2 separate regions of the Homo sapiens genome follow, and region 2 is linked to region 1. The links come from fine-mapping of genetic effects on gene expression. A gene starts in region 1. The other region holds a variant in brackets. All regions are shown on one strand. Distances are from middle to middle. Region 1 holds the start of ZNF462 (zinc finger protein 462). Region 2 overlaps LOC340512 (a long non-coding RNA gene).

The links. PIP is the estimated chance that this variant, and not a neighbour inherited with it, causes the effect.
Region 2: its variant is the best candidate, but not a certain one, in a credible set for the expression of ZNF462 in lung (TOPMed, PIP 0.74).

What each region holds. Positions count from the first base shown.
Region 1 is chr9:106,861,425-106,865,809 of GRCh38, reverse strand. ZNF462 (zinc finger protein 462) reads right to left here and starts at 2,644. Exons shown (of 13, transcript NM_021224.6): 1 at 2,455-2,644.
Region 2 is chr9:107,017,967-107,022,351 of GRCh38, reverse strand. All of the region lies in intron 4 of LOC340512 (a long non-coding RNA gene), which reads left to right. Among named protein-coding and RNA genes, the nearest start is that of ZNF462, 160 kb to the right of the region's middle. The variant C/T (reference allele first, on the strand shown) is at 2,660.

The DNA of each region.
Region 1 (4,385 bases):
ACAAAATGTCTTCCTACATGATTAATAAATTCCTCCCAATTAAAAAGGTGAAGATACCTGGACATAAGGTTTTCTCAACTGACATCATGTTTTTAAAATTTGTTTCCATAGCGACATTGTTAAGAAGACATACTGATATTTCTGAAGACTTAAGAGTACTTCAGAACACAGAAAAAATTAGCCGACGGAAAGGGAAAGGGGAAACAAAGAAACTGAAAGAAGGCCTAACATACAAATGGAACGACCTGAAGAGAAATGGAGAACCTGGAGAAACTGGTGTTAGCCAGTCTTAGAGTTCCTCTGAGATCTTGCAGGATTATTCTTATTATTTTTTATATTTGCAGAAATCAACTCAAATCAGACAATAAAGTCTTGCAATGCATCAAAACATGATGATAACCAAACCCTAGAACTCAAAAAAATCTCAGCTTAGGGCCATCACCATCTTCACAAGGAGGAAATCACATTTCCTGGTGACTTTCAGGAGACCTGGAGCAGCTTAAAGTTGTGTGAAGACCTCAGTGGAACTGTTTTAAGGTTTTTGCCTTGCCTTTCCTGAAGGAGGTCAAAACCCTTCAGGTCCACTCAAAAGGAGAAAAAAAATTCCAAAAGTTTACTTTAAAATGGAAACAAACGCCTCAATAACTTGTGAAAGCACTCTTTGGTGGAGAAAAATCTGAGGAACCCTTAAAAGCCCTCATTTCCTTGCATAATGAATAGACAGTGAGGAACCACCACAAGGTTTCCCTCTGGAAAGAGAGAAGGAGTAGGCAAGCAAGCCTCCTCCTCCTCCAGCCATCACCAACAGAGCTTCAAAATGGAGACATCCATAATTTTATAAACACTTCTCATCTCAGCTTTGTCTCCTGGAAACCCGCTCTCCTCCATTTTCTGGTGGAGTTACAACATGACACGGCTTACCTGACTCAGTTCCCAGCTCTTAACCAAACTAGTCACTTCCTCCAAAAACCTGCAAGCAACCTCCAGAAACAAAACCAAAGCAAACCAAACAGCCAACACAGACACTCAGACACAGCCCCCGGGAGCCCTGGGAGAAAGCCCCAACTGGTTGGTCTTTCCCCATCCCAGACGCGTGCTTAAAAATGAAACTTTTTTTTTTCTTGGTTGGGGAGGAATATAAAAGGAACTCCAGGCAGCCTCCCTCCCTCCCTCTCTGTAGGTTAGAAGCCACAATGAAAAGAAAACGAGGGTTCCTTCAGGAATGGTGAACAGCCTGGAGAATGAACGTGAGAAGGAGCTTTGTGTTTTGGAGTCTGGACTGGAACCAAAGCAGACAGCTTGCAAATGGAGGACAGGGAGATAAAGAAAGGGAAAGAGGGGCTGCTCCAATGGGGGGCGGCTGCGGCTTCCCCTCGTGCCTGGAAGGAGGGCAGACCCCTGGGAACTGCACCAGGAGTGAGACGCCCCCCCAGGCCCCTGCCTTCCTTTCTCCCTTCCTCAGAGGAGAGCCAAGCGTGTGTAATGGCTTCTCCTCTCCAGAAACCGTTGTCCTCCTCCACCAGACGCTTCTGAACCTCCAGCCTGGAGACAGCTCCTCAGCCGCTCCTGAACCTGCGCCCCCCACCCGGCCGGTGCCCCCCGCTCCTCGCCTCTCTGTTCACCAGCAGCACCGGCACCAGCAGCTGCAGCAGCCACCCCCCGACACATCCCGACCCCGCATCCCAACTTCGGGGAGAGGGAGAGAGAGAGAGAGAGAGAGAGAGAGAGAGAGAGAGAGAGAGAGAGAGAGAGAGAGAGAGAGAGAGAGAGCCAAATACCTGAGGAAGAGGGGGGCTGCCAATCCGCACGGCTTTGCCATCGGGCGGGGGACAGGCAGACAGAAGGGGGAAAGGAAGGAGAGGGACAGAGAAAGAAAGAGGTCAACCCGCTCAGGTCGGGGCCGCTCGCACGGAGCTCTCCCTCCTCTGACCCTCGCTCGCTCCCTCTGGCTCTCGGCTCAGGTCTCCGGCCTCCCGCCCTCCGCCCCCCTCTGTCCCTACTCCTGTCCCCACACTCGGAGCATCCGTCCTAAGCCTCCAGCTCTCTTCTCACTCATCTTTCATTTTCTCTTCTCTTCATAGAACTACACGAAATTAATTAAGCCACCGCGCTCACTCCCCCCAGCAGGAGCAGCAGCCAGCAGGAAAAGCACAGCCACCTCCACTGCCACCACTACCACCTTCTCCTCCTCTTCCTCCTCCTCCTCTTCCTCCCTCGCTTCTCCTCCTCCTCTTCCTCCTCCCCCTCCTGCTCTCCCTCCTCCCCCTCCTCCTCTTCTCTCTCGCTTCTTCTCCTCTTCCAACAGCCAGTCCATGCAGGGGACTTCCTCTCCTCCCCGCTCCTCCAACCCTCCTTGGCCGAATGAATGAGCGCGTTTGTGCCTCCACCACCCCGCGCTCTCTTCCCCGGAGCACTCGGACCACCCCGAGGTGGTTGTTAATTGCAGTAACTTACAGAAGAAGCGTCCCGGCGCCGGGAGGTGCTTCGGGTTCTCCAGCCCCACCGCCTCCTTATCCTCTTTCTCTTTCTCCTCTTCCTGCTCGGGTTATTGTTGTGGAAGTTGTTTGGGAGTCTCATGTGCTTCTGCCGGGTCTCAGCAATGGAGGATCGCCATCTTCCCTGCCTTCCTCGGCTCCTCAGACTCGCTGCAGCTGCAGATGACCTGAGATATCCGTCTCTCTCCCTCTCTCTCTCTCTCCCTCCCTCCCTCTCCCTCTCACTCTCTCTCTCCCCTCTCTCTCCTCTTCTCTCTCCTCTCCTCCCTCTCCCTCGCGCGCTCTCTCTCTCTCCCTCCCTCTGTGTCTCTCTCTGAATAATGAGCAACCAGGGGGAGAGAGAAAGCAAGACAGAAAGAGAGAAGGAAGACAATCTTCTCCTGCCACACAAAACGCCGGAGCACCAGGGGGTGCGCGAAGCCTTTCTAATAACAACAACAACGTGCAGCAGAGAGGAAGGAAAAAAAGAAAGAAAGAAAGAAATGAGGAAAAAGGCTAGGGGAAAAAAGAGGAAGAATTATCCAAGAGCTCGAGAAGAGCAGAAGGAGAAGCTGGAGGAGATGCTGAGGCTGCTGCTGCTGTTCCCCCTCCCCCCTGCTGAACCCCAGAAGGAGGCAAGGTGGTTGCAAAGTTAAGGCTGGGACATTGTCTTTGTCACTCAGAGCCAGGCCAGTGAGATGCAAGAGGAGGAGGTGGCGGCGGCAGAGGAGGAGGAGGTGGTGGTGGAGGAGGGGGAGGAAGAGGAGGAGAAGGAGGCAAAGGAGAAGGAGGCAAAGGAGAAGGAGAAGGGGAAGAGGGAGATGAGATGATGAATAAAGACCTGCGGAGAAGGCGGTGCGAGGAGCGCGGCCGCCGGGCCGAGGCGTGCGCGCTCGCGTCCCGGTGGCGCCCGGCAGCCCTGGCCCGCAGAGGAAGCCCCCGGTGAGGACCCTGCCCGGCAGCTCATAGCGCTCCCAACGTCAGCCCTGCCCGAGGCGCCGAGCCCGAGCCCCAGAGGGTCCCTTACTTGCATCCATCTAGAGGCCAACCTTTGCAAAGAACATACGTGGGGAACTGGAGGTTGCAAGTATAAACCCAGATCAACCACGTGGGGCTTTTTAATCCCTTTCCAGCTTGCGGTGTGAGTATTTCCAGTGAAAAGCTCAAATTGTCCATTACTGGCACGTATTTTGAAGTCTTCTCTCCTGAAATAAAGGCTCATTGTGCGTTTTATTTCTTTCCTGATATGGAAGGTGGGGGGGTGGAGGAGGAAAAGAGCCCATCATTCCGAGCTTCGGAACCACCACTTTCTTTTCCTAACTTGTGAAATGTTTTGACTGCGCACCAAAAGAAAAAAAGAACGCCTGCTTAAATAACTTTACACCCTCCAGCCCCGCGTTGTTTGCACTTTCTGGCTGATCATCTAAAGGCTCGGAAAGTAACAATCAGCGCTCTTAATGATAAGGTGTCATGGTGTTGAAGACACGCGAGCCAAGATGAAGCTTTCACACCTTGAATTTTTATTTAGTGTAATCTCTCCCGTATCATTCTGAACTATCTCTTTTGCAAAGGAGTGGTTCCCCCCCTCCACCACCAGGTCGAAAGTCTCCTACGGTTTTAATTGGACTGGGAGCGGTGGGGGTTGGGGATGGGGGTTCTACAGTATCAAAAAAATCAATGCAGCAAGTCAGGAGCAATTGAAGTTCAAGGGCATGGGCTGATTGTACCATTTCTATTTCTTGGATCTTGGAGTTGGACATCAACAGCCTCAGGAGAGAGAAACGCGCAGCGCGCGGGGCAGAAAGAGACCTTAATTAAAGTTTCTTTTGTCCGCGTCTGAATTGGGGATGTTGCTGGATTCCTTTGCATTGAGGAGCGCGCATCCGGTGAAGGCGCGGTGTTAAGGATCCT
Region 2 (4,385 bases), 160 kb before region 1:
AGGCCCTGGAAACCTAGTCAATAAGACACAGTCTTTGCTCATTGTGGAGTGAGAGAGGTACAGAAGTGAGCAGAACACTTCAATTCTGACTTATCAGTTCAGTGCAATGATCTCAGTAAGCCCTAAAGGCTACAGGAGCACCTGGGAGGGAAGCCTCATTCAATCCTGGGGGCAAGGGAACCCTTCCTAGAGGAGGTGGCATGTAAGCTGAGACCTGAAGGATGAGTGAAGATTCACTGAAGAGATGTGCTTTAAGTCTGAGAGAGACAGGCTCAGATTTAAATTCAGAAGAATCCCTCTAGCAGGCCATGGAGTAGAGTGTTTTACCCTCAAATGCTCATGCATATTGGCTCCCAGTGCTCCCTGAACACTTAGGGTCAGGCAGCTGAGTGTGTACTTCATCAGTAAATCTTGGGGAGAGGGAAGCCCCTTTTCTAACCCTCATATACATGTTATGAGGATTAAATAAAGTAATACATGTAAAGAATTTAGCTCCATGCCTCTTTCATAGTCTGTGTGCAATTGATGGTAACCACCACCATCATCATCATCGTTGTTGTAGTTTTTAATTCTTTAGTAACGTAGGAACTTTGTTTCCAAGAACTCTCAAAGTGTGATTTGGAGGTCAGTTAGGATCTTCTAGTATCTTCACAAGGTTCATAAGCAAGAATCCTGCAGTGTTTACATTTAAACCAGGACAGTGACTATATTTCTAAATCTAACCATAATCAATAACCAATTTAGGATAATTAATAGAAGCAAGACATCTTCTCATGGCTGCTTAGTCAAAGCATGACCATCTATCACTTGGGAAGCCTCTTCACAGGTAGTGTCGGGCGTGGGGTGGTGGGATGCATGGTGACTGACTGGAACTTTTTAAGTATGAGAACCCTCTGCAGTGGCAGAAAAGTATTTGCAGAGCAATACTTCTGTTTCTGGAAGACTCAAACAGAGCTGCAGTACAGAAAAAAAGACTAATAAGTGAGGGTGGCACTTGCTCAACCAATTATACAGAGTGAAATTATGAGGCCCTCTTGGACCACACCTCATTTCAAAGATCAGCACTGAGCTTCTGCCTCACTTCTACATTAGTCAGGCTGCAAATACTTATGGAGCAGCCCTACAACAAGCCAGGTGTGCTCATAGTTGTGGGGATATAACAGGAAGCCTGAGAGAGCCCCTGCCCTCAAGGAGCATGCATTTCACACTCTGCAGTCCTCCTCTGGCCCCGATACTGCTTTATCACATGGCATTTTCACAGTGGATACTTTTATTCCCCTTTCTACGGATTAAAAAAACTAAGGCATAAAAGAGGCTAAATAGCACCCCAGGTTTCAAAGCTCATAAGAGAACTCAAACCTGGCTCTATCTGACCCCAGAGCCTGTGGTGTGAGCTCTACCCATCTTCCATCTTCATACTTAACGACTGAAGAAATCAAGCCATTTACATTTCTGCAAGGCCAGCAAGAGAAAAATCAGTGGATGTAGTAGAGATGTAGTAAAATCAATGGCCACATATCAAGTGTCTACCACATACCAAGCACATCCTAGTCTCTTTAATCTGTTTTTATTTTAAGCCACCTTAAGGAAGGTGATGTTATTGTCCTTTCTTTGCAGATGGGGAAACAAAGGTTCCAAGTCACTAAAGAATTAAGCACAATAACAATGAGAATGATGATGATCAATTATACCAAGTGAGCACAAACTATGGGAAAGGCCTTACTTATTGTATTTAATCCCTATAACATGTATGTGACTAGGTACTTTTATGTCAATAACTTTAATGCCAAAAATAGATGGAGAAGCTGAAGTGTGTGAAGGTTAAGTGCCCAAGGCCACACTATAAATGGAGCAGTCAAGACTTGAACTAAGGCAACTTGGCTTCAGAGACTGCACTCTTAACCAGGCTGATGCCCCGTCAGGGACAGGACACAGAGGCAGGGCTTCCCTGCTTGACAGGCTACCAGAAGCCAGAGTCTTGGGGAGATGTAGATGGGCCCAGGCCTGCATCTGCAGTCTTCCAAACAGCCCCCTGGAGGAGGTTCTTCCAGCTCTAGGGAAAGGTCAGAATTTCAGTCTCATGTTTTCACACATCTTAAATGGATTTCAGAAGCACTGGGGCTGCCCCAGCTCCTCTCTTTAAACAATGTGGTTAAGCTGTTGTAGCGTTGCTAGAGACTGCATTCCTCCTGCATTGTGATGTGGTTTTTGGCAGTCATGCATGCAGTTAGCTAAACCAAACTAAGCTGTTTCATTAATGGGAATTTCAAGAGAGAAATTGTGAGTAGAAACAAGGCAAGTTTGCTATCCAGCCCTAATTCAAAAAGCCACATAATTAGGTAGGTGGGGAAAGGTAGTGTCCCCTCAGATTCCTAGAGTGACTCTCTCTCGTTTTTCTTTATTAGGTGGTGGTGGTGTGTGCATGCTTATGTGCATTTGTATGTGTGTGGAGGGATGTTGGGAAGGAAGTCCCAGCAAAAGATCTATTACCCTGGACCCTCTGGGTAAGCTTTCTCTGTCGTATGAAGAGCATAATACTGACTAATCGGTTTCAGCTCTGTTCAGCTTCCTTTTACTTCCACCAGTTCTCTTCTACACAGCCCTCAGCAGCAGCTCCAACCCTTCACCTCTCTGCCTACTCATCCCTCTCCTCTGACTT[C/T]GGATCCCACCTCAGCATGAACCCCGTCACTCCCTGAATCTTTCACCTTCATGGAGAGGAGAGCACATTCCCTTTGCACTTCCTTCCCTCTTCATCTCTAAAGCCAATTGTTCTCCTGTGCCCTGTATCCCAGTAAGAGTTTGCTTGTCAGTGCCCCTACAACTGCCATGGCTCCTTCTTTCCAGTGTGATAAACATGTCCAAGTCATGTGTATTCTAAAAAACAGTCTTCCCTCAACCCTCTCTCTCTCAAGCCACCGTCCCACTCTTACTCACTTGGCTTCACCACTAAACATCTTGACACAGTCTGCCCTGTTAGTCACAGCCAAGGATCTCCACTCCCATCACAGCCAATTCCGGCTTTTCTCCCCTCCTCTACTAGCAGTCACTGCTGCCGTCTATTATAATTTTCAGACCCAGGGGACCTCTTCTTCCATTTCCTAGCCACCTCTAAGCAAGGAAGGAGGAGGAGGCTCAAGGTGACCTCTGAAGGGGGAGTGTTGGTATTGAGTTCTCTGGCGTTTTCTCAGGGAGAGCCTGGAGTTGCAGACAAAGACATTTTTCATCTACCAAGCTGCATATTTTTACTTAGATATTTTAAAAAGCAATATCGAGCTCTGAAAGAAAATGTAACATTGATGCCAAATCAGATGAGAACTAACACTTGGTATCAACAGGAATATATTTGAATTTAAAAAGGCTAGCTGCATCTGACAGCAATGTGTCTCAGCTACTTAGAGGCTGAGTGGGGTGGGGGTGGGGGAGAGAAGAACATTTCATCATCCATCCATCCATCCATCCATCCATCCATCCATCCATCCATCCATTTCTTCCACAGACATTTATTGAGTCCTGATTCAGGGCCAGGTTCTGTGCATGGCACTAGGGAGGCAACAATGAATAAGACAAAGAGAAGGGTGTAGAGCAGTGGTTAAGGGAATGCACGTTGGCTGCTTGAAGTGCTCCACCCCTCCTGAGCTGTGAATCTTGGGCAATTATTTAGCCTTTCACTAAGGGTTCTGATTTATAAAATGGGGCTAATAATAGTAGTCACTTCATATGTGTTTTAGGAGGACTGTAGCGGGTTGAATGGAACTCCCCCCACCCCCAAAGATATGTCTAATTAGAATCTGTGACTTTGACCTTATTTGGAAAAAGAATCTTTGCAGATGTTATTAAGGATCTTGAGAGGAAATCATTCTGGATTAGGGTGTGTGCTAAGTCCAATAACAGATATCCTTTTAGGGGAAAGGGAAAAGACACAGAAGAAAAGGTGATGTGAGGGGAGATGGCAGAGATTGGAGTAACGCGTCTGTAAGCCAAGGAACACCAAGGCTTGCCCACAGCCTCCAGAAACTAGGAAAGAGGCATGAATCAGGTTCTCTCACAGAGCCTCCAGGAGGAACCAACCCTAATGACACCTTAATTTTCCACTTCCGGCTTCCAGAACTGTAAGAGGATACATTTCTGTTGTTTTAAGCCACCAAGTTTGTAGTCATTTGTTACAGCAGTCTTAGGAAAACCAACACAAGGATTAAATGAGATGATGTGTATAAAGTATTTAGAACCATTCCTGGGACATAATGAGCCTTCCATAAATGTTTATTAAGATGGGGGGTAGGTGACAGCTAGGGTGATAGTCTATATCTTGTGACTCATAGGGAGGCAGGGAAGGCTTCACATCAGAAGTGACATTTAGGCTGAGTCTTCAATGGGAGGTAATTCCA